3 separate regions of the Homo sapiens genome follow, and all the other regions are linked to region 3. Evidence: fine-mapped QTL for protein levels in blood plasma. A gene starts in region 3. Each other region holds a variant in brackets. All regions are shown on one strand. Distances are from middle to middle. Region 1 overlaps DELEC1 (deleted in esophageal cancer 1). Region 2 overlaps TNC (tenascin C). Region 3 holds the start of TNC (tenascin C).

The links. PIP is the posterior inclusion probability: the model's chance that the variant is causal. The UK Biobank Pharma Proteomics Project read protein levels with antibody pairs (Olink). The fine-mapping took linkage between variants from a reference panel, not from the people measured, so its PIPs are less certain.
Region 1: its variant is fine-mapped to the plasma level of the TNC protein (UK Biobank, PIP above 0.99).
Region 2: its variant is fine-mapped to the plasma level of the TNC protein (UK Biobank, PIP above 0.99).

The regions. Positions count from the first base shown.
Region 1 is chr9:115,159,102-115,167,285 of GRCh38, forward strand. All of the region lies in intron 1 of DELEC1 (deleted in esophageal cancer 1), which reads left to right. All of the region lies in intron 1 of LOC124902257 (a long non-coding RNA gene), which reads left to right. Among named protein-coding and RNA genes, the nearest start is that of DELEC1, 21 kb to the left of the region's middle. The variant C/G (reference allele first, on the strand shown) is at 3,474.
Region 2 is chr9:115,023,626-115,031,809 of GRCh38, forward strand. It overlaps TNC (tenascin C), which reads right to left. Exons shown (of 28, transcript NM_002160.4): 23 at 7,928-8,060; 24 at 6,629-6,780; 25 at 5,735-5,831; 26 at 2,909-3,070; 27 at 348-511. Among named protein-coding and RNA genes, the nearest start is that of TNC, 90 kb to the right of the region's middle. The variant A/C (reference allele first, on the strand shown) is at 5,021.
Region 3 is chr9:115,113,851-115,122,034 of GRCh38, forward strand. TNC (tenascin C) reads right to left here and starts at 4,307. Exons shown (of 28, transcript NM_002160.4): 1 at 4,132-4,307. LOC124902255 (a long non-coding RNA gene) reads left to right here. Exons shown (of 3, transcript XR_007061746.1): 3 at 7,106-8,184. LOC101928748 (a long non-coding RNA gene) reads right to left here. Exons shown (of 6, transcript NR_110950.1): 6 at 5,689-5,858. RefSeq lists enhancers at 63-1,262, 4,586-5,405.

The DNA of each region.
Region 1 (8,184 bases), 45 kb after region 3:
ACCAGACCATGCAGCACTATTTTCACGCCAGCTGCAGAGTCTAAATGTGTTTCCTGACACCTCAGAACCTTCTTGGGGGAGGGCATTCTGGGCTGGGTGATGGGACATGCTGGGATTTTGTTGCTCTCCTTCCCTTGTGGGTCTTAATGGAAAAGCTAAGTCACCAGCAACAGAGAAATAGCGGTGTCAGGCATTGTTGAAACTTTCCATGTATTCTCATGACACATCATTTCCAGTTATAAAAAAGAGTGGAGGTGTTGGGCTCTGTTGCCTAATCGTGGTAAGAAGTCCCTTTTACTAGAATGCATTTTTTCATCACAGCATCATGGTCAATGATCAACCATGTGAACTTGTGTAAGTTGCATAAACTTTTCAGTATCTTGACGTCTCTGTGGGAAAAGATGGAGGCCATATGTGGGAGAACAAAATCATGATTAGAGACATGGGAGAGAATAGGGCTTCAGAGTGCAGCTCCACTTCAGACCAGTGCATGGCATAGTACACATTGCCTGAACTCTCTGAGACTCAGTTTTCTCTCCTGCTAAATGGAAGTGATAGTTGGTCCATTTTATGGAGCCGATGTAAGGACTAAAAGTTATAATGCATATAATGTCCTTTGTCTGGCACACATTAAAGGATCAACCCACTTCTGCTACCATTATTATTAGGAACAAATACTTACTAAGAACCTACCATATTCAATATCACCTGAGTGCATTTTCATATTCAATTCTCACAATGACACAAGGAGATATTATCCTAATGTTGACTGTGAAAAAAATTAGACCTGGAGGGTTCAAGTCACTTGCCCAGATTCACATGGGTGTGAGTGGCAGAGTTGGAACTTAAACCAAGAATTTTTGATACCAAAACCTATTGATGATCTTTCCACTGAAAGATACTGACTAGATGTCACCTTGCTTTCCCTGTCAAATGCTAATCAGAGATCAATGACTAATCAAATGGAACTAATTAATTCTGAGTCAACAAATATTTATAGAGCCCCTGGTATTTGCCGAGTGCCATGGAGATGAGAGCTACCATGGACAAAAGGATGGTCACCCAATCCTCGGTGGTACAGGACTTCTGTAAATGCCCCAGGAGGTCTTCCCTTTTTCCCAGGTTGATGCCTTCTGAATCACTTCTGTCCATTCACTGCTTTGTCAGCAGCAGTTTACTTGACTGTTACCTTGGGTAATTCCTTGAGCTTATTTATTTACTATTTTTGAGATGGAGTCTGACTCTGTTGCCCAGGCTGGGGTGCAATGGTGCAATCTTGGTTCACTGCAACCTCCACCTCCCGGGTTCAAGCGATTCTTCTGCCTCAGCCTCCTGAGTATCTGGGATTACAGGCATTTGCCACCATGCCCAGCTAATTTTTGTATTTTTAGTAGAGATGAGGTTTCACCATGTTGGCCAGGCTGGTCTCAAATTCCTGACCTCAAGTGATCCACCCACCTCAGCCTTCCAAAGTGGTGGCATTACAGATGTGAACCACCATGCCTGGCCTCCTTGAGCTTCTTGAGAGCAGGCACTGGATCTTTCTTCTTTGCTACTTTCTCTGCAACACACTGCCTGGTACATACTAAATGCCAAAATCTTATTGACAGGCTTGCAGCGAGGAATGAGCATCTACCTTGCTGGTTAGATTGCTTTTATCCAGAGTGGTGATCCCTGGGGAGATGTTTTGCACTTGGCCTCGTGGCAGATGGGTAACAAGTGCTGGATCCCAGAGGAATGATGCATTCAACAAGTCCTGAGTTTTATCTATAGTGCCATGCAGTGAGTTCCTCCTGCTCCTACTGCCATGGGCCTTGGGATGCACCTTGAGCACTGACCCCACCTTGTCATGCTTCCTATGTGATAAGTTTCCTTCTGCAGCCAGATAGCTCTTTGACTCAATATTACATCAGTATTATAAACTGAGTAATTGTGTTTTCCTTCCTCCAATCAACATGTTGAAGTCCTCCTTCCCAATGTGATGGTATTAGGAGGTGGGGCCTTTGAAAGGTAATTAGGATTAAATGAGGTAATCAGGGTGAAACCCTTATGAATAGAATTAGTGTCCTTATAAGAGTCATGAGAAAGCTTGTTTTCACTTCTGCCATGTGAGGACACAGAGAGAAGATGATCCTCTGTGAACCAGGAAGAGAGGGCCTTCATGAAATTCTAGATCTTGGAGTTTTTGATCTTAGACTTCTCTGACCCCAGACTATAAGAAATAAGTATTTTTTGTTTAAGCCACCAGTTTATGGTATTTTTGTTATAGCAGCCCAAATGGACTAAGACACTCAGAAACCTTCCTGTGGCCTCCTGGAAGACCTTTACTATCCTGCAATTTCTCCAGGGCTGTCAGAAATTTAGACTTCAGTGTGGTTCCAGAACTAGTGTGCAGAAATATAAGGCAAAGCTCATAACCATCCTCCAGTGTTCAGGCTCAGCATAAGCCCTCTAGGAAACCTTTGTACCTTTCTTTGGGCCTCCCCCACCATAGCCCTCATCATGCTATGATTAATTGCTCAATTATCTTTCTCTCTACATTGTCGGTTATTTTTAGCTTTAATTAGTTTGCCAGATAAATGTATCAGCTACAAGCCCTTAGAGGACTTAGAAGTCTGGAAACTTTGGAGAAACTGTTTATAGGACTGGCAGTTTCTGATGGAGAACATAGGAAGTAGAAAGAAAATATCTGGGTAGTCTTTGGATATTCCCCAGTGAGGGTCTCTGAGACTGATATGATTGAGCAGCTTTATGAATAAGACCCAAGAGGAAAGGCTGGAGAAAATGAGTAAAACAAAGGGAAATTTTACGTACGTTTTTTTGCCCATGAGCTAGTCATGAAAGGGAGAATCAAATGTGATCTCATCAAAGATGTTCCCCCTTGAGATCATAACTATATATATATATATATATATTTTTTGAGACAGCCTCTCTGTCACCCAGGTTGGAGTGCAGTGGCATGATGTCGGCTCCCTGCAACCTTTGCCTCCTGGGTTCAAGCGATTCTTGTGCTTTAGCACTGAGTAGCTGGGATTACAGGTATGAGCCACCACACCCAGCCCATAATCATATATTCTTAAGTGGGTGTGTGTGCATAGGTATGTGTGCATGTGTTTTGCTTTTCAACCTAAAAGCGATCATACAATATGTCAACAGCCTTGTGTGTTAAGCACAACAGAGTTCCTCTCATTCGTAAATGAAGAGTCTGAGGCTTGAGACTTGGTTTGCCCAAGTCCAGTAGCATTAATACAGGCAGCCAGGTCTTCAGATAGCTGCCCAATTCCCTTTTCGCATCTCAAATATGTGAGGTCTTCAGACACCTTGGAGATAATATTTGCTCTCACCTCTTTCCTCAAAGAATTAAATGTGACTTGCCATCTTGAGTTTTGTTACAAAAGATTGTAATGCTATTCAATAGTGGTATCATATGTTATTTACCATGGAAAAAGATGGCAAAAACTCCCCCTGAGGAA[C/G]TGCACTAAAAGTAAAAGATCAAGACCAAGGGAAGAGAAAATACAAATATTCGAACCCTATGTATCTAACATGATTAATATATCCGAGATACATATGCGGCTCTGGTTACCAGAAGCCAAAGAAGAAAAGGGAAGAAGATTCATTTATTTGTCCTTAGGAAAATAGCAGTTCCCCAGTCAAAGAAATATTTTGCAAGCACTTAGATCTCAGAGAGGTCATTTAAAAGGCCTTTAGCATTTATTCAACAAATACTTATTTACTAGCTACTATGTACCAGGCACCATGCTAAGATATGAATATACATAATGAAGAAACAATGTCCTTGTTTCTGTGAAGCCAAGTCTAGTGAGGGAGAAAGATGTTAAAATTATACTCTTCTATATATTATGATATGGTCAGTGATATCTTTTGGCTCTGCGTCCCCACCCAAATCCCACCTTGAATTGAAATAATCCCCACATGTCAAGGGCAAGGCCAGCTGGAAGCAATTGGATCTTGGGGCAGTTTCCCTTATGCTGTTCTTGTGATAATGAGTGAGTGTCACAAGATCTGATGGTTTCATAAGTGTCTGGCATTTCCCCTGCTTGCACTCATTTTCTTTCCTGCTGGCCTGTGAAGCAGTGCCTTCCACCATAATTGTAAGTTTCCTGAGACCTCCCCAGACATGTGGAACTGTGAGTCAATTAAACCTCTTTTCTTTATAAATTACCCAGTCTCCAGTATTTCTTCATAGCACTGTGAGAACAGACTAATACAGTCAGTAATGGAAAAGAGTAAGATGATGGGAGAGAATTTGAAAGGATTTGGTTTAGCTAGAAGATAGCTCTTGTTAAAGTGATACTATAGCTGAGATTGAAAGCTAACTAGGTTTTAAAAATTTGGAGCATTAAGAAGAATAGTGTTCAGCAAGAACAGCAGATGTGAAGGTCCCAAGTCAAGTACAAGACTGATGTATTCCAGAAACTTTTAAGGACAGTGTGTTAGTGTGAATTTCAGAGGCCAAGGAGGAGAATAGTCTGGGATGAGCCCTGAGAGTAGCAGGAGCCCAGTCCCCTTCCCTGCAGAGCTTTGCTAATGTTGGTGAGATGTGGTCTGGAGAGAGACATTAAAACTACTGAAGGATTTCAAGAGAGAAAGTGGCTGTCAGATTTGCATTTAAGACTATTGCTCTGGCTATTGGAAATGATAGCAAGAAAAGTGGGTGAAAACAAGAGTGCAAGTCTGGAAACTAGAAGGAGGTTATGGAAGAGGCACCTTTGCCAGAGATTAGGGTGATCTGGAAATACGATAGAAAATAGACATTCTAGGACGGGCACAGTGGCTCACGCCTGTAATCCCAGCACTTTGGGAGACCGAGGTGGGTGGATCACGAGGTCAGGAGATCGAGATCATCCTGGCTAACACGGTGAAACCCCGTCTCTACTAAAAATACCAAAATTAGCCGGGCGTGGTGGCGGGCGCCTGTAGTCCCAGCCACTTGGGAGGCTGAGGCAGGAGAATGGCAGGTGAACCCAGGAGGCAGAGCTTGCAGTGAGCCGAGATCGCACCACTGCATTCCAGCCTGGGTGCAGAGCAAGACTCCATCTCTAAAAAAAAAAAAAAAGAAAAAAGAAAAGAAAATAGACATTCTAGAGTTAAAAACTCAACAAGCTTGATGCAACCATCTTGTTTCAGGGGAAGGCAATTACTGCACAGAGAATAATCATGGACAATGCCCCTCAAACCTCCACATCCCCAAAATCAGGACATATAGAAGGTTGGAGCAAAAATATAACCTTGGCTAAAATAATTAATAGTGTTCTTCTTGATTCAATTTGCAGGAGACATTCAGAGAAAATATCCACACTCAAAACTGAAATATGAGTGCCACACAGTCATTGCAGCTCACATCTGGGAATTTTCACCAAGCAACTGAAAAAAAGGCTATTTTCAGTTCTTTCATATGCTCTTTTTGTCATAAGTTGGGTTCGGGGGGTGGGGTTCAGAACCACAGTTGCTGTGGTGAGAGAAGCAAATTTGACAGCTTCTGGCAGAGCAAAGCACAAGTATTTCCTGCAGAGTTTTTCAAAGTAAATGGGTCTCCCTCCCTGGGCAGATACTGGCAATCCTTGATGACTCACTTCTGAGGGGCTTAGCCCATCAAGGATTCAAAGAGAGGGAGAGGCCTGGCACCAGGCCCAGTGCTGGTGACAAAGTGGCTTCTTGCCTGCTTTTTTGTAGTTGCTCCAGTGGGCACATCTGTGCCCGGAATTTGTCATGAGACAATGAGGGTTTGTTCCCTGTATCCGAAATGATGACTTCATGATTCTTTTATGGCAGAGTAAGAGTTGGAGCAGAGGAGATAGAGGATTAATGGAGTTAAAGGAGCATATTACAAAGATTGAGTTTCATATTGGTTAAGATCTGGAATGCTTTCTATCTGGCAAACTGTAAAATCCAAAGCATTAATTACATTGACAATAAGGACCCAAGTGTCCTCCCATTTAGCTGTTTTCAAAAGGTATTATGAGTATCCAAGCTGTCAGGGTGATGTGTGTAGACTTTTTTTCCTTTCCTGTGTCAAAAGCATGATGTTGAGCAGTGGCTTTTAACATTTTTGACAATAACCCATAGTCAGAAGTACCTTTTTTTTTTATTGTGACTCTCAACACACACATGTAGTGGAAAAAGTTTAATAAAAAATACCACTGCAATAAGTAACACACACAGTTTCTATGATATTTTACTTATTAAATTATTTCCTGTGTAAAAATGTGCCTGTGACCCAGTAGATTGTTTTCATGACTCTCTAACAGGTTGTGACCTGCAATTGGAAGACATAGATATTGAGGAAAGAACACAGGTCTTGGCTGTTGAGGCTCATGACCTACCTCCCCAGCTGTAGGAGATTTTTCTGTGCTTTAGTATATGAGTAAGCATGAGAGAGGTGATGCTTCAGTAATACACACTCCCAACATTTCAGTGGCTTAAAACAACAAAAGTTTATTTCACACTCATGCTATAATGGAGGCTTGACTCCATATGATGCAGAGATCCAGGCTGCAGGAGCCTTCACATCAACCCTACTTTCTCCTCATCTGCTGCAAGAGCAATTTTACTTCTAGCTCTGACTCTTTTTTTTTTTTTTGCTGTATGGAGCTGGGCAAGTCATAGAACCAGGGCTGACTTTATGTGCATGTGACTTAGGCAGTTGTATAGGGCCTGGTGCTCAGAAGGGCCTTGTGGCTTGGCTTACTACTCTGCTGTCACTGCCTTGAAAGTCTTAATAATTTTTTAACAAGAAGGCTCTTTTTGCACCAGGCCACACAAATTATGTAGGTCATTTGCATACAATCTTTTCTAAGTCTCCATTTCCTCATCTGTAAAATGGGTTAATAGAGAAGAACTCATAGCATTCTTAAGAGGACTAAAAGAAAGAGCATAGTACATACACATGTAGTTTTCAACTTGCTGCCTTTATCTTCAGTAGTACCGCTACAGAAAACTTTTACTTAATCAAGTTAGACTTCTCACCTTGAAAAGCTGTACTTCCTTATGTTGCCCTCCCTACTCCCTTCTGTTTATCTAAATTTTGTTCATTATTCAGGGCTCTACTCTAACACCTCCTCAGGGTCCTCTTCCATGACTGTCCAAGCTGTTTTCAGAACCCCTACCCCATTAATTGTGGATCCCTTCTTTATGACTCACTTACTTTTGTTTCCTCTTCTCCTTTGGACCCTTCCTTGGTTAGGATCCCTCCTACCTCGCCTGGAACATTAAACAGCCTCCCCATTAGTAACCCTTTTAGTAGCCCCTCTCCAGTTTGCCCTCCAGTTCCACTCTCCATCATACCAGGGTCATCTTCCTGTTACCCCGAAATGTCTTTTCTATCATGCCATTTCAGTTTTCAGAGACTTCAGTGGCTCTTCTCACCTAAAGGGCACTGCCCTTAGTCTTGCATTTAGGATCTGGCTCTCAGGCCACATTTTGGGTCTCATTTTCCTCCACTCCACTCACACACTGCTCCTGCATTCCTGCTCTACACCATCTCTGGAATAGAGCTTATTCTCCTGCCTTTGGTTCTTTGTACATTCTCTTCCTTCTACTAAGATGGCCTGCCACCATAGGCGTGGTGGCTCATGTCTGTAATCCAATCACTTTGGGAGGCTGAGGCAGGTGGATCACCTGAGGTCAGGAGTTCGAGACCAGCCTGGCCAATATGGCGAAACCCTGTCTCTACTAAAAACACAAAAATTAGCTCGGTGTGGTGGCTCGCGCCTATAGTTCCAGCTACTCAGGAGGCTGAGGCAGGAGAATCACTTGGACCTGGGAGGTGGAGGTTGCCGTGAGCCGAGATTATGCCACTGCACTCCAGCCCGGGCAACAGAGGGAGACTCCATCTCAAATATAAATAAATAAATAAAATGGCCTGCCCCAAGATTTACCCCACACCCCTGAAATAATCCAATCTACCTTTTACTGCTTGGCTGAAATCCTATCTCCTCAAAGACCTCCTGTGCCAGCTCAGGATGAAAAGTCTCCCTTATTCCTTGGAATCCCTATGGCATTTCTTAGAATCTGACATATATCCTGTATGTGTGGGGCAATTCCCCCAACATCTTGGTTGCCTTTTCTGCTGGGTCTGTGTTCCAGGGAATAAGGACAAAAACAAAATATGGCTAGAGTTTCAGTCACACTTCGTAGGAACTCCCTGGAATGAAGGGTTCCTGC
Region 2 (8,184 bases), 90 kb before region 3:
CAGGGGTTCTGTGTCATCAACCCTGCTTCACCTAAATGGCCTCCACTTTTATCTGCTTTACTTTTGGGGTTCAGACAGAGATTTTGTCTGAGTAAAGCGTTCTGTTTTTGGAATCCATTTGACCAGTGTTTGTCCTTGGGACTGTCAAGGGTTAACCTGTGCTGTTTCTATTTTACCTGGCCTGCAGTGTCCTTGAGATTGCTCACTGCCTTGGGAAAAACATGTTGTCATACAAGTAAGGTTCCTGCCTCCTAGTCTCTGCTAGGATAGGGAGTTAAATTGTACTTCCATTAGCCCCCTCCAGCTTCCCAAGCTTGGCCTGCTCTGGGCCCTCACGGTCCACTCACCTGACTGTGGTTATTGTCCCCATATCTCCCCATCAGGTTGACACGGTGACAGTTCCTGTACCAGAAAGCCCCTTTGTAGGACAGAGCACAGTTGGTGATGGCTGAATCTGTGTCCTTGTCAAAGGTGGAGAAGGATCTGCCATTGTGGTAGGCCATGGAGTCACCTGGGAGAGACAGAAAATATGGACCTGAGAAATCTCAGCTGAAATTTCCCTCCTGGACAGTAAAGGGCAGAACCAGAGGTGACAATTGAAAGGTTCTGGGTGTGGGACTGGCCTTGAACATTGATCCCAGAGTCAGCATTGAATGCGGAACTGAATGGGACATGAGTGTCACCCCAGTACTTATTTCCGACAGAAGCAGCATAATGTGGTGGGAAGAGGGCTGTGGCTGGCTTTGGAGAGTCTAGCTTCGAATCCCATCTTTTCACTTTTTAGCTGTGACCTTGCACAAGTCAAGCATCTTGTTGAACCTCAGTTTTCTCATCTATACAATGGAACCAGCACTTTGATTCTATATACTGAGTAGTGCCATTGTGACAATAAAGGTGTATGCTAAACAGGTGGCATGGCATACAAATACTTACTATGATTGTTATTTTTATGACTTTTCTGCATTCCCTTTCTATAAAGACCTCAGAGAGTAAGGTGAGAAGTATGCATTTAATAATGGCATGCTTTTCTCCCACATACAAATATTTATTAGTCATAATTAAGCCCTTCAGACATTAGATGTCCCTAAATAGTCTCTGTATCACATAGTTACTTTTTAAAGTATTCATCAGACCATGTTCCGTGATTCTTAGACAAGAAGCCCATTAACATGTACTACTATTTGGAAATCTAATTTGTAATTTAATATATTGAATTTTTGAAGCATTTCAGTACCATTGCTTTGTGGGTCTCCTCACTCCCAATCCAGACAAGTGCTGTGCACAAACATTTCAAGACTCTGAGGCATTCTACCGTCATAATTTGGAGCAAGTTGTCAAAGGAACCCAGATACCTTTTTAACTGATGATGCTACCCAGAGCATGAGGACGGCACGTAGATATTAATGAAACAGGATGCTCTCCTGCAGAAGGCCTGGGTGCAGCCAAATCACACAAGAAAATGCAGCCTTACAAACGTTATCTCAGTAAAGGGAAATATTATGGCTCATTCCTCAATGGAAGCACAAAGAGAGAGGAACAGAGGCCACATTCCTGCTGCTTAATGAATTTGCTTGCCCTGTAACATTCTTCTTCTTGCCTGAAGCCATCTCAACCAAAGAGGTATTCATTTCCAGGTAATAAAATGCCAACATTCTTTGAGGGATTCAAGAACTAAAGCAATGTTTGCCCCTGGGTGTCTCTCTTTATTATCACTAAACTGCCATCTCAAAAGAGCTTTGTGCCTCCTTAGGCTCAGCCTGGCTTTGGCAACCTTTTATCTGGAGACTTTTCACCTTATGGATGTTTTCTTTCAGGGCTCAGGGAGGCTGGAAACGTGCCAAGCTTCTATCTCTTCTGCTCTCACAAACATAACAGAAAGCCACCCAAAGTGGGCATGGGTTGCATGGGGGTGGTCCACACTCTCAGTCCTGACCCTTCTTTGTCACTGAGAACATTGTCGGATGCAGTTTTCTGCAGCCAGGATTGCATCCACCTTCTACAAGCTGTTTTACCTTGGACAAATCACTGAGCTCTTCTGAACTTCTTTCCTCCTCTGTATAAAAACAACGTCTTCATAAAATGGTTTTATGAGGAATAAATAAGATGAATGCAGGTGGAATATCTACAAAAGAGGATGGTACCTAGTAGGGCCTTAATACATGTTGTTTCCTTATTTATTTCTCCTCTTATGTGGAGCCAGGAAACCACACAAAACCACTTCAAGTCCAAGAAATCTTCAAGACTGGAATGAAGGTTATGAGCCAGACAAGGAATGCAGGGGCCACTTGAGAGGTGAGACCTTCTATTTATGAGGATGCAGGCTGAGACTAGATGACCACATGGCAGGGATGTCTTGGAAGAGATTCAAGCAGCTAGGTGATGGAGTGGATGGTTTGCTACTCAAGCTGTGGTCCACAGACCAGCAACACCAGCTATATTGGCATCACCAGGGAACTTGGAGAAGATGCAGAATCTCAGCCCCATCCCAGACAACCTGTGTCAGCATCTGGAGATTCACAAGATCGCCAGTGGGTCCATACACCCAGAGTAAATTGAGAAGTGCTGGATTGGATGAATATTAAGGCCTTTGGGGAATTTTTTTTTTAATCAGTCTACAACTGATATCTAAAACTGGGTAAGAAAGACACACTTTTTTTGAAAGATGGTCATTAGAAATCAATCCTGATTGCCCTGATTCCCAACATACTCAATGTTTCAGGACCCAAATATCTACCCAACACTTTTGAATTGTAGTTTTTCTGGATTGGCACTCAGTAGGTACTTAAATATTTGTTGATTTAATAAATTGCTGGATTAATGAGGAAGGAATGAAAGTTAGAGAAATAAACTGTAAATGTCAAGAAGGTCTCCATGGCTTTGTAGGCTCTACGTGCAGCCACTACTGTACCTGCTGTCCCACTGTACCCCTCCACCTTCAGCTTGTAGCGAGTCTTGGCATCTCCCACGCTGAACTTGTCATAGACAGCAAAGGCTGTCTCCCCATGGTCCCGCAGGTCCACCCGGAGCTCGTACTGCCCCTGGGCTGTGATTTTGTTCAGGTTGTCCAGCCCTGTGGATGACAGGCAAGGGTTGCTAAGAAGCACAGGTGACTGAGGCCCTCATTTCTATTTCACTCTGTAAAAGCGGCAACTGGGTACACTTAAGACAGGGCCAACTGGGCCCAGTGGCTCATGCCTGTAATCTCAGCACTTTGGGAGGCAGAGATGGGGTGGGAGGGGGTGGGGGTGGGGGTGGTGGGAATCACTTGAGGTCAGGAGTTCGTTATCAGCCTGGCCAACATGGCGAAACCCTGTCTCTACTAAAAATACAAAAATTAGCTGGGTGTGGTGGTGGGTGCCTGTAGTCCCAGCTACTTGGGAGGCTGAGGCAGGAGAATCGCTTGAACCCGAGAGGCAGAAGTTGCAGAGAGCTGAGATTGTGCCACTGCATTCCAGCCTGGGTGACAGAGCAAGACTCCATCTCAGAAAGCAAAAAAAAAAAAAAAAGGGCCATATCACACAGGCCTGTGCTTGAAGCTCAGTCTTGTGCTTGCTGGAGTAATACTAGGCTCAGGTAAAATCGGGTTGACATTTTTGCCCCACTTCCAACCTCCCAGTGCATTAGTGAAGATCCAAGGAGATAAGGTGGTGAAAGTACTTTTTAAACTCTAAAGTGCCTTACAGGCCAGGCACGGTGGCTCACGCCCATAATCCCCACACTTTGGGAGGCCAAGGTGGGCGGATCATCTGAGGTCAGGAGTTCGAGACCAGCCTGGCCAACATGGTGAAACCCTGTCTCTACTGAATATACAAAAATTAGGAGGGCATGGTGGAGGGTGCCTGTAATCTCAGCTACCTGGGGGGCTGAGGCAGGCGAATTGCTTGAACCCAGGAGGCAGAGGTTGCAGTGAGCTGAGATCACACCACTGCATTCCAGCCTCGGCGACAGAGTGAAACTCTGTCTAAACAAACAAACAAACAAACAAATAAAATTTTGTAAAGTGCCTTACAAATGAAGGGCAATGAATAATATAGATAAATGTTTATTATAATATGATAAACATTTTCTGGGGTAGGCAGTGGTGCATAGAACAATGTTCTCTGCAGTTAGGTGGTTGGAAAGTGTGGATTGCATGGATGAATGGATGGGTGATAGGATTGTAGTGTTGACTTAGGAGATTCCAAATTTCAGCTCAACTGTTCATTGGTTAGACTCCTATGGGCAAACCACTCAGTCTTTTTGAGGCTGTGATTTTATCCATGCGAGGTGGTGAGGAGAGCAAAAATCACCTGGTGACCATCAAGTAGGACTCGGAGACAAAAACCCCTTAACTGAGGGATTTAAAGGTAATTAGGCTTCCGTATATCTCAAGCAAGCATCTGGTTCCAGGTTTATTTCCCAAAAATTTATAGGTAACTGGAACTTCTATACATCTCTGGAATACATGCATATCAAAACTCATTTTGCAACCCTTGCTGACATTAAGGCACCAAAATGTCTACAAATGTAATCATGTATCATGTTCTACATGGCTAATAGGGTCCAAATTATCCTTAAGCTCCTGCCTTAAGGTCCATAAATACCCCTAAGGAAAAATCCACTGCAGGGGCTGTAAGTCCTTTTGCAGCATTCTTTCTTTCTAATAAACGTTCCTTTTTCAAACCTATACTGTTGTTAGTAAATTCGTCTTACCAACCCACTAGTCAACCACTTCTGACACCTGACACCTTGCCCACCCGGTGGCAATTGAGTACTTTGTAGGGGTGCTATGGGGGTTAAATATTATGGCTCTAAGAAACCCATCTTAGCACCTGGAGCACAACCTGGGGCACAGGAGGGAAGATATCAATGATATCAGTGAGGAGGATTCTATGACTGGTCCAGAGAATGACTTAAGGCTAGGTTAACACATAAGGGCTGAGTTTTGGTTCTTCCTTAATCAGATTTTACTTTTTGTGAAAGGAAAATAAAATCTTGGGACCCCAATTTAACTCTGCCAATAGGAAAAAAAATAAACTGA[A/C]AGCCGAGTCATGGGAGAAACTGCCTCTCCTTTTGTCCCTAAGCAGATGCTACAGATAAAAGGCCAGATATCTCCACAGATAGTTATTCTATCTTCACTTTATCTTATGTAAAGTGCCGATTTACTGAGTGTGAGATGAATACAAAATTGACCATTCTCTTTTTTGTCATTCTGCTTTTTTCTTTTTTTTATCTTGCAACATGTGGATTCAGTAATGTGACCATATCCCTCCAGCCCACTTTTCCCCTTTAAATACTAAAGCTCTCAACATTATCTCTGAAAAAAAAAAAAAAAAAAAAAAAAAAAAAAAAAAAAAAGAAAGTCATGGACCACAGGTTGTTCCTGTGGCTTTCCCCCTTTAAACACTAAAACTCTTAATATTATCTCTGGAAAAAAAAAAAAAAAAAAAAGGCATGGACCACAGGCTGTTCCTGTGGCTTTGTGTTCTTTTTTTCTGGGCGTGTCCTTAACGTTGGCTAAGTAAACCTCTAAATTGATTGAGATCTGTCTCAGATACTTTTTGGTTTACATTTTGATGATTCAGAGCATTTAAATGATAGTCTTTTTCATTAAGAATTTGACATTCTGTGTCTGCCACCAGAAGTAGTTCTTCTTCCTCATCTCTTTCTCTCCCATAGGTCCCTGTGGGTTAGGAAAAGTGACAAGGAGGGCAGAATCAGGCATTTTAGATATAAACATGCAGGGCTGCATTACCAAGCCAGAATTCTTCTCTGCGGTCCCCAAATCCAGCAGCATATGCCTTCCAGTTTTGGTAGAAGTTCTCGCGTCCGTTTTTGCGTCTCAGGAACACCTATAAACATATCGATGAATCTGGGTGTACTTAAGCTATTGCAGGAAAGAGGGCATCGTTGTGAGAGGAAGGAGTGTGGCACTGTGGAGAGAGCATCAGGCTCCATTCTGTCCATCCCTAATTTGCTATGTAACTTTGGGTGGTCACCTGCCCCTCCTTAAGTCTTGGTGTTCTCACCTGAAAAACAGGGATTAAAAATACCACCCAGTTTTGGGTGATAATGATGTGTCAATGTAGGTTCATTGATTGTAACAAATGCACCATTCTGGTGCAGGATATTGATAATGGGGAGGTTGTGTGGGTGGGTGTGGGGTGTATATGAAAACTTCTGTTCACTTAATTGTGCCATGAACCTAAAACTGTTCTAAAAAAATAGAGTTTATTAATTCAAAAATACACTACCCAGCTCCTATGGTAATGGGGTCGGAATAATTCATCTTAAACTCTTAGCACAGTGCCTGGTAGATAATAAATGCTTAGTCAGTGCTAATTAATGTAAGCAATGGGTTCAATGATCAACTGTCATTTATACATCACAGAGTTGTTTGATGAGGATTGGATGAGATAAACTACAAGAAACTTATCTCCCCGTTTCAAAAAGTAGCCAGCGTGTTTCCCATTCTTTTGTTTAAGAGAGAATTCCTGAGTGCCTCTGTGTGACAGGCACTATCTTGCAAGGCCTCACACATGGGGGTGTCAGAGTGCATCAGGAGGAGATCACCCTCTTCTCCTCCCCTGCTTTGCCCTCTCCCTCTTCCCCTAGGCCTGAGGGCTCTGCAGTCCCTGGTGGTACTCACAATCCATCCACCCCCATCAGAGGTCATGTCACAGAAGACTTCCAGCGCCTCAGCCTTATCACCATTCAGATAAATGGTGTAGAGGCCAGAGGTCGTGTCTCCATTCAGCATTGCTTGGGAGCAGTCCTTGGGGAAGGGGTACAGGAGTCCAACTGTGGAATAAGGAGAAATGGTGATGCTCTCAGTGCAGGAGGACTGAGCTGGAGCTTAATTCTTAGCTTAACTCTATGGACTAGAATGCCTGGGGAATTTCCAGGTGCAATAATGTGATGCAAACAATTAAAAACTCATAGAAATGGGCAATCTTGGAACTATGCCTAGTAGATGGGTCTTAGAGCTGATGATCATAGCAGTTCTTTTTTCTGATCTGAGGACATTCATCTGAGGTTGTATCATGAGCTGTTTTCTTATTTATTTCACAGCCCTAGTATAAGAGCATCTTTAGGATACATTCATAGTTAGCATCTGGCATAAGATCTGGCAAAGGGGAAGCACTTTCTTCAGCAGATGTGTGCAGAATGACTGTCCCGTGAATTTTCAAAGGCAGGGCTCTCCAAAGGCCAGCTCCTCTGGTCCTCAGGAATGGATGCCACTCTTACTTATCAATGGAACAACTTGCAGGTTTGCTATCTGCAGAAGATACTTTGTGACAGGTGCAGGGGGAGGCTCCCTGGGCATGGAATATCTGAGCCCAACTCTGACTGTAACTCACAAGATAGTCTTGAACAGGTCATTTAGTCTCTGAAAGTGTCTGCTTCCCCACTAGAACTTTGGGCATAGGGCTCACCATACCAGCTTGGTGGGAAGATCATTTGTGATTTTGAATGTGGACAGGTTTTGTAAACACTGGCATGATGAAGGAGAAAGAAAGAGACTTTCAGCTCATGTTGAACTCTGACAATAAAAGGACCACACAATTATATGGGCCACATACTGGGCTAGGAGTTCAAATGCAATACCTCATGAACACTTGCAAGGTCCTGGTGACAGAGGATTTATTATTAATCTCCCTGTATAGACGAAGAAGCTAAAGATTATAGGATGGAAGTAGCATTCTTAAGGCACACCTAGCAGGTGATAGAAATGGGGACTGAATCCAGATGGGCTTCCTCCTTTCCTTTCACCGGGATGCTCATAATCTCCCACATTTGCTTTCCTCAGGCTTCCAAGTAGTAGCAGTGAATCGATTCTTTTCAGAGGTTTGTTTGAAAATTTTAAAGTAGAAGTCAAAGGGGAAGTCAAGGGTTGATTCAGTCAAAGTTAGATCTCAAGGCTGGATGGCACCCTGGGCCTCCTTACTTGTGGTGAAGATGGTCTGGATCATATTGCTCCTCAGGGGCCCATTGAGTGCCTGGATCTTGGCTGTGTAGTGGGTGGATGGGCTCAGGTCTGCCAGGCTGTAGGAGGTGGTATCTGGACCCACAATGACTTCCTAAGAGCAGAAGAAAAAGTATAATGGCTTTTGGTCACAGAAATTCTCAGGGTATAGATAAGAAGTCATTCTATTTATAAGTTCATTTACCCATCCATTCACTTACTTACTGGACAAGAATTCA
Region 3 (8,184 bases):
GGGCCAAAGAGAGTAATGATAGTGACAGGGTTGTTTCTAAAGTGGAAGAGAAGCTGGAAATGTGAGACAAGGTGGAGGGAAAGGAGTTTAGGCTTAAGGGCATAACTGAAAAATGTCTGGCCACCAGGATTAGAATCAGGTTGGTTTGCAGACTTTTCTCCTTTACAGAGAAGTCACAAAGCATGTATAGCCCCCGAAGGTAGGTAAGTTCACCATCTCTGTCTTTTACATTGAATGGAATTATGGCCTGGGGTTTGCAGGAGGCTGGTCATGTCACACTTTGAGGGGGGTTTTCCTCCTTGGAAGGGAGCCTTCATCTAATGTTTCCCACATGTTGAAGGTGTTCAAACTGGCCCGGGATAAGATTCAAGGGGATTCCCTACAATCTTCTCAGAGTGAGAGGTATTTGAATCATAATCTTCCTCTCTGAGGCTTCCGCTGAATTTGTGGCTCAATTTGTGGCTCGGAGCCTACAACCATTTCCAAGCTGTCCTGGGATTCATGGCCCCAAGGCCGATTTCACTTTACCTACCAATCAGCCCTTTTAAAACCAGATGTTTGGCTCACCTGTGTGCCTACTTTTCTGAGATGAAAATCAGCAGGAGTGACCTGACTGCTACCTCTAGTTTCATTCTTCTCTCTTCCAGGGCTGAAATTTGAACTTTCCTGTTTCCAGGCAGAGAGTTGCACCATTGAGAGCTGACCTTTGCTGAGAACCATGAAAAATGATACATGCAGGGCTATTCTGTAAAATCAATAGGCACCAATGCCAGCTGGGGGCTTCTCCACCATCTTGATCATTCACTGAAAGACACCATTTAAGGTTCTAAACTTGGTCAGCACAGCCTGACTTCAGAAGGCAATATAGCACAGCAGAAAGAACAGTGGGGTATTAGTTAGAAAGCTTGGGTCAAAGCCAGCTCTGCCCCTCAATTACGGAAAGACCTCAGATGAGTCACCTAACTTCCTTGAGTGTCGATTTCTTTAAAATTGAGCTAGTAATTTATAATTTGTAGTGTCTGAGTGAGAATGAGATGAGAAACCATTGGCAAACCCTCCTATTACATATGTGACACTATTAACTTTGTGTTTGTGTGTTTTACCATCACAAAAGGACATATATTTCGAGCCAACTAAATGTTTGCAACCTACTTTTTACGTTTCAAACTGAAGTGGCTTCAGCATGAAGGGGGCTGCGCTTTGGTCCAGTGGATATGTTTTCTTGTAAGAAAGCACAGCTAGGTGTCTATAGAAATCTAGAGAGAGAGGAGAGAATATGTGCTCTTAATTTATTGTTAGCATTAGAAAGGGTAGGATTAAGGGGGATATGTTTTTCATTCTGTCAGCTTGAATTCTCTTTCCAAATTCCATTCTGGTTATATGATCAGGCTACTGCTGTATTTATGGGTGGCCACAGTCTGCCTGGAGGGGCATATTTAGTCAGAAAGGAAGTGTTTTCCTTCTAAAGGCAGGCAAGAAGCAGAGAAGCATTCAGAAGGAACACGGCAGAATGTACCTCTGACTTGGTGATCACGGGGACCTGGGTGTGAAACCTGGCTGTATCACTCTGAGTTCTAGGACCTTGGTAAAGTTATTCAGTCTCCCTGTTCTTGAAGCCATCTCTTTGTCCAACAAATATAGTCCATACCTCAGAGACATGCTGTGGATGATCCCACAAAAGCCTACAGTTTAGAGAGTAGGCTCATCATATATTTTGGCTATCATTGTCATTAGAATTAATTAAAATAGCCTTTGTTAAGTCTTTTATTTCTCATTCATATTCCTGTCTATTACACTATTTGTGGACTTGCTCTTACTTCTGCTACAGATGGTGACTCAGAGGGGCAAAAATCCTTGTTGAAGGGCAGAATGGCAACCAGAATGCACACAGCCTGGTTTCATGATTTGTAAATGTGCTTTTTGTCATTGAAGATTCTGTGGCAATGTCCCAGAGGCTAAGAGCAAAGGTGTAAGTTTTAGACCTTGTGACCCCACTTCAACCAAAGCAGCCCTGCATTTACCTGTCATATACTGGGGGTTTGCCCTAAATTCATGTAATGAATATTTTCATCATTAAAAATAAGTTTAAAAATCATGATCTTAGAATATTAATCTTGGACAAGTCCTTGTAAAATGATAAACAGAGAAACTAAGAAAAGTTTCCATTTATTGAACCCTTAATATGTGGAAGGTACTATGCCAAGTGTTTGCCATATATTACCTCATTTGAATGTTGCAAGAGCCCTGTGAGACATAGTTTGTCATCTCCATTATATGAATGACAAAGTTGAGGGCTGAAACGTTAGTCACTTCTTAGAGTGGGGAAGGAGGAGGTTAGTGTGGGATAAAATAGAGAAGCTAGGTTTTTAAAACAAAGCATAGAGGAAAAAAATATTTAATGACTGTAGAGCTTGGCAACATCCCTTTCAATCCTTGTCCAATTTACCCTGTTTGAGCAAACCAGAGAATACTCATATTGTGCACCTTTTTCTTCCCCACAAAGCAGTCACCTTCCTGAAATGCAAGGGCCAAAGCACGCTGACTTACATCTCCTGCAAATGACTTGTATGCGCACAAAGCCAGAAACTCTTCACTTGGTTGTCTAGGACTGAATAAATCTTCTTCAGTCCTGAATTGGGCTTGCCTGGCTGGGATGGATAGTAGTTTTCCTTTCTAAAACACATATGGGAAAGCTCTGTAAAAATGGGGGAAAAAGTCTACAAAAACATGAAAAAGAGGCATTCATTCTTCAAGTGGTGCTCCCTGTCCTGCCCTCCCTCCGGACAGAAAGCTTTTCCAAAGAGTTTCCAACAGCATCGTACTTCATAGCTGTCAGCTTTAGAATCTGCAGATGCCTAAACTCAAAACCTCCTGACATTCTGGAATCAAAATTTGACATTAACTTCCAGCCCCGGGCTACTACCTTTTCTCCAACCTGTGCCAACACAACCTCCTGCTTGTAAAATACAGCCAAGTCTCAGACCTGCCAGCCTAGTGAGACACCCTCAGATTGGGTGAGATAAAAAGCGGGGGCTGGGGGCGGGCTGAGGAACAACACACAAGAAACAATCCAAGACTGGCTCAATGCCTCTTTTAACTTCCAGAGTGATGGCAGTTTTTGGCAATGACAATGATTATCCAAACTTCCAGTTATTAAGCAGTCATTGCTGATCTTTCTATACCTCATTTTCTCCTCAAAACGACAGCAGACGCTATTGTCCCCATTTTAGAGATGTGAAAACTGAGGATTAAGGAAGTGATGTATCTTTCTCAGGGTCATATGTATGGTGGTGGGGAGAATACCAAACACCTCTGGCTTCAAACCTAAGCTCTTATTCCTCTTACAACACTGATGGGTGAGAAGAACCCCTGTGTTCTTTCCAAAGTACACCAGGGGCAGCAGGGTTCCCATACCTGGGGGATGTTGTTGCTCAGATCTTTCTGTGATGAGAGGTGAGGAGGAGGAGGTGATTCTAGAGACATGTGGGACGCTGCTGGCTCTAGGCACCCCAGTAAAGCTGTTCTCCACCACTCTCTAGCTGCCTGTCAGTTATTCATCTGGCCCAGGAGCCACCTCCTCTCTTCTGTCCCCCAGCTCTCATTTCCAGGGTGAATATTTTGAGGACCAAATGAGGGAATGGGTACAAAACTCTTTGTAAACTTTATGTAAGTGCTGTTTAGATATAAACTTTTATATTCTCCCTGCACTCCTCTATCAAACTCCCTCTAACCCATCCCAGGGGCAGGCTATGAGCAAAGTCTGCCTTAAAACTCTACTGCCCTAACCCTCAAAATAAAAGATATATACAGGTGAATCAGCCAGACTAGAAGTAGGAGAGCAGTTGAAGAGAAAATTTTTACTTTTCCTCTGCAGAACAGCAGAAGATAACAACTTTACGAAAAGTTCCTTCCAAGTCTGACTATTCATAAAGTTAAAACAAACAAAATTACAAGACCAGAAAAGTCAAGGTGCATCTGATATAACCAATACACACTCCTTTTTTTTCCAGCGGTGGAAAAAAAAACCCCATATGTTTTGTAATTATAATATAAAATCACAACTCATTTGGTACCAGGAATGCAATCCTTACATCATAAGGATCTCTAGTGATGAGGGCAAAACAGACTTACCTTTCCGATGGGCGAGAGACCTAGGTCCTTGGAAGAAGTACCTGGAGTGTGGAGCTGCGGCGGTTCCCACGTGCGCGTTCCCCCGAGTTCCCCAGCAGCGCTGCCTTTGTGCCCACGGAGGCGGGGGCGTGTATCTGCGCGCGGGAGAGGCGGGTGACAGTAGGCAGGCTGTGGCCGGTGCAGCCAACTTTGGCTGGCTTATATAGCGAGCTCCTTCCTCTGTAATGGGACGCCTCGCCTCCAGACATCCTTTCCCACTTTTTCAGTTGGCGAATTAAAGGAACAGCCCTCCCAGCGGAACAGGGTTAGCTCATGAAAGACGCACTCACTCCTGGCTCTCGGCCAGGGAAGGAACCCATTTGCATACAATTTATGGCGAAAGTAGGAATTCCCGCCTGCCCGCCCCCGACCCCGAGTAGCTGTTAGTGAAATGTGATTTTTGCTTTGCTCCCCACACGGGTTTTCTAATTGTGAGACGGATGCCTGGGGAGCAAGAGGGAGTAGGATCCGCAGCCCTGGCTCCCCTCTTGTACTTGGTCAAGCTGGAAATGGGACCAGGGCTCGCCTGGGCTCTGGGCAGCAGCTGCTCAGTGGCACCTCGGAGCGAGTACAGGGACTGAGCCCAGTTCCTGGAAAGAGGAGATAAAGCCCTTCAAAAGCCTGGGGGGTTTCAGGTTTCTCTGGGCCAGCGGAGAGATAACCCAGGATTAGGTCTCAGCAGGTGGGGATCGTGCGGGACGCTCACATCAGCCCTGCTTTTCTTGTGTGGGAGCCAGCCTTGCCCAGCTGCTGGGAGGCATCTTTGTTCCAGCCCCAGTGTCCTGCAGGGCAGTAGCTTTTTGACATTGTTCATGCCCTGTGCCTGGTGTGGTCTTCTCAGCTGGGTCTCCAGGGGGAAGGATTTCTGAGGTTTTCTCTTAGTGCTGAAAGGCGTCCCCCACAGCCCTTTCTTTAAAGAAAAGCAATAATTTAAAAAGGTAACAACCTAATCCTTGAGCCATAAGCTGCGCCTTTGCTTTCCAGCCTGCCGTGGATTTCCTCCAAGCTCTGAGTCATCCGTTCGTTTGGTGGTTAGCATGCATTGAGTATCCTCAGGGCATACAGGGGCATTTAAGGGAGTGGAGAAGTAGCACTTCACCCGTGCCTAGAGACTTCTGAGCCTGCCGCAGAGCATAGTAGTTTGTGACAGTGAAGTAAAATGAAGCATTAAATGTAATTCAAAACGCAACTACCATTGAGCCCTCCCTTATTAAGTCTATAATCAGGTGCTGTGCAGGGTACTTTATGAACACTATTTTTGTTCACTATTTTTATTATATCCTTGTAACCAGTAAGTAGGATAGACACAAGTGTCTCTTTTTTACACAAGAAAACTGACGTTTAGAGAAGTAATGAAACTTTACCAAGGGAATACACCTGGGAAGTGTTTATATTACAACACTGGGCTCCAGAGATCTATTACACGTTACTGTTTAGGAATAGGGTATGATGATATTTAAACAATGTTTTATGCTGTATTAGATTGTTAACACCATTTGTGTAGAAATCACAGCCATATTTGAATATGGAAAATATATTTATTTGCTCCATAAAGCTAATTAGGAGAGATCTTTGATTTTTAAAAATTAACTACTAATAATGGAGGTCTCAATTATCCACTTATTTTCAATATTAAATGATATCATCCCCACAGTTATTATTGTTGCTGTGGGCCTCAGTTTCCCCATCTGAAAAAAAAAGCAAGACACGATTAGGTCATCCTACGGTTGCTTTGGCTGTAGTATTTTAGGATTCTCTGCTAAAGTGACCCTCCCAGACAGCAAGAAAGCCCATAAATAGTCATGTCATAAAACCGCTCATTTGAACTTTTGATCCATTTTGGCTGATTCAAATGTTGGTTGTTTGGGAAGTTTTAAATTCTGTGCTTTAGCCAAAGGATATTTCAGTAGCATGAAGCTGTGTCTCAACCAGCAGTGAGTGGTTCCTACTGAGTTAATCTCTTGGGTTAGGGATTAAAATATTAGAATAGTGTACAATATATGTCATATGGTATATAAACTATATTTGTATAGAACATATAATCAATATATTTATAATTCTATGTGAGTTTTTAAATAAGACAAGAGCGCATGCTAGAAAACTAGATAGATATGGCTTTTTCGGGGAATGTCTCAAACTCGAACTCCTCTCCCCAGTTCTTTAGGATTCTACAATCGTTGATTAGTGTCTACCACAAGTGGTATGGTCAATCACAGGGAAACTAAGCCAAATATGACCAGGCTGGCCCTCAAAGCAGGAAAAGGCTAGCAGAGGTGACAAACAAGAATACTATTATGGGTTAAGTTAACAACTATCATATAAGTGTATTCTGATAACATAGAGAAGAGATGATTTATGCATTTTTAGGAGAGGCTACTTGTAAAAGGCATTTTCTCCAAAAAGCTATGTGGCATCTTAAGCTTTTTGGCATTTGAGTAAGGAGTGCCCAGACGAGGACGTGTTTTCCATCCCTGTACTGTTCGCAGCCTCTGTTTCTGGTAGATGGGTCCATATGCACCAGGTACTCTACAATACCCAAACTTTGTTCATGCTAGGATGATGCCCTAGGCTCCTCACCTCCATGCCCTCACATCTATTTATCATCCATTTCTGATCTGACTTCACTATGGAGCTTCCTAAATGGAAGAAATCCATCTAGGAAGAGATGTTTCTATGCACTATGGCATTTGTAACTCTATTAGGACATCCATTGCATCTACATGGTATAATTACACATGTGCATGTCTAGATTTTCCTCCTAGATGCTAGGCTTCCTGAGGCTGGTGATCACACTTGCTTTTTCTGTACCTGGCATAGAGCCTTGGGTATCATAGAAGCTCAGTAAATGTTTATAGAATGAATGAAGTAATGGAGGAACAAATAAATGTTTGACATGTTGTGCTTTATAATTAAATTCTTCCTTTTACAACCATAGAACCTGAAAAGGAAACTGGATTATTGTGTCCAATGCTTCCATCGCACAGATCAGAAAGTGGGGTGCTGAGAGGAAGAATGACTTGTCTGAAGCCACTATGCCTGCTTTCCAGGAAGAAAACTGTCACAATCAGAACTGAGCAACCAAGCCACACTAGACATTACAGCAGAGGAAGTTTATGGAAATGAAGAACCATTTTTCCTCCTGTTTGGCAGAGGCCATACCTCTTGGCATCTAATCCCTCATGGTTGCATCCTTCTGAGAAGCATAAGCACTTTTTTCCACTTGAGAGGGTAGAATGAATGCATGTAAACACCACCCCTGCACAGAGCTTCCTGCCAAAGACTGATTTTGTTGTTGCTTGTTTGCAGTTCTTATTCAGGAGTTGCTGGTGGAGGCTGTGGTTTAGAGACCAGAGGAATGTCATGGTTTGCCTCAGGTGAGATCATTCTCATTTCTTTAAAGGTCTGTTAAATGTAATACTTTTTCTTCCAGACAGAACAGACAATGAGTGGAATTTTGGCCAGGACTAGTGCTGAGGAAGCTGAGTGTCCACTTCCCCATGGAATCCCCTGCTTCCTACTCTGATTACATACTCCTTCACTGTTCCCAACCTTCCTCCTCCTCTTCCCGGGATTCATCTCATCTGGTGTGCTAACTCCAGTCCAAAAGTCTCATGTGACTCCATAATTACCAGAAATCTTTTCCAAAGCCGGGATGGATCTCTGATCCCACACAGTGGGCCAGTCATTTAATTAAATGCATTTTGTTAGAGTCAAGGTTTCCCAACTTGCTTGCAGATCATTGTTGAGTGGTCTTTTCCAACTCTTCTTGCTTTTCCTTCGACAACAAAGGACAAAATCAAGTTCAAAGACCATATGGAGTGTGTGGCAAGACATATGAGAGCTTCTCTGATGGATGGACTATGGCAATTTAGCTGCGCCATCAACCAAGAAGTCATGCCTGGTCAGCACAGCAGAGTGGAGAGCATTGGTTGAGTGTCTAAGTCTTGATGCTGCATCAACTCGCTGTGTGACTTTGGGAAAATCGCTTTCCCCGCTGACACACAGGGTCCTGGT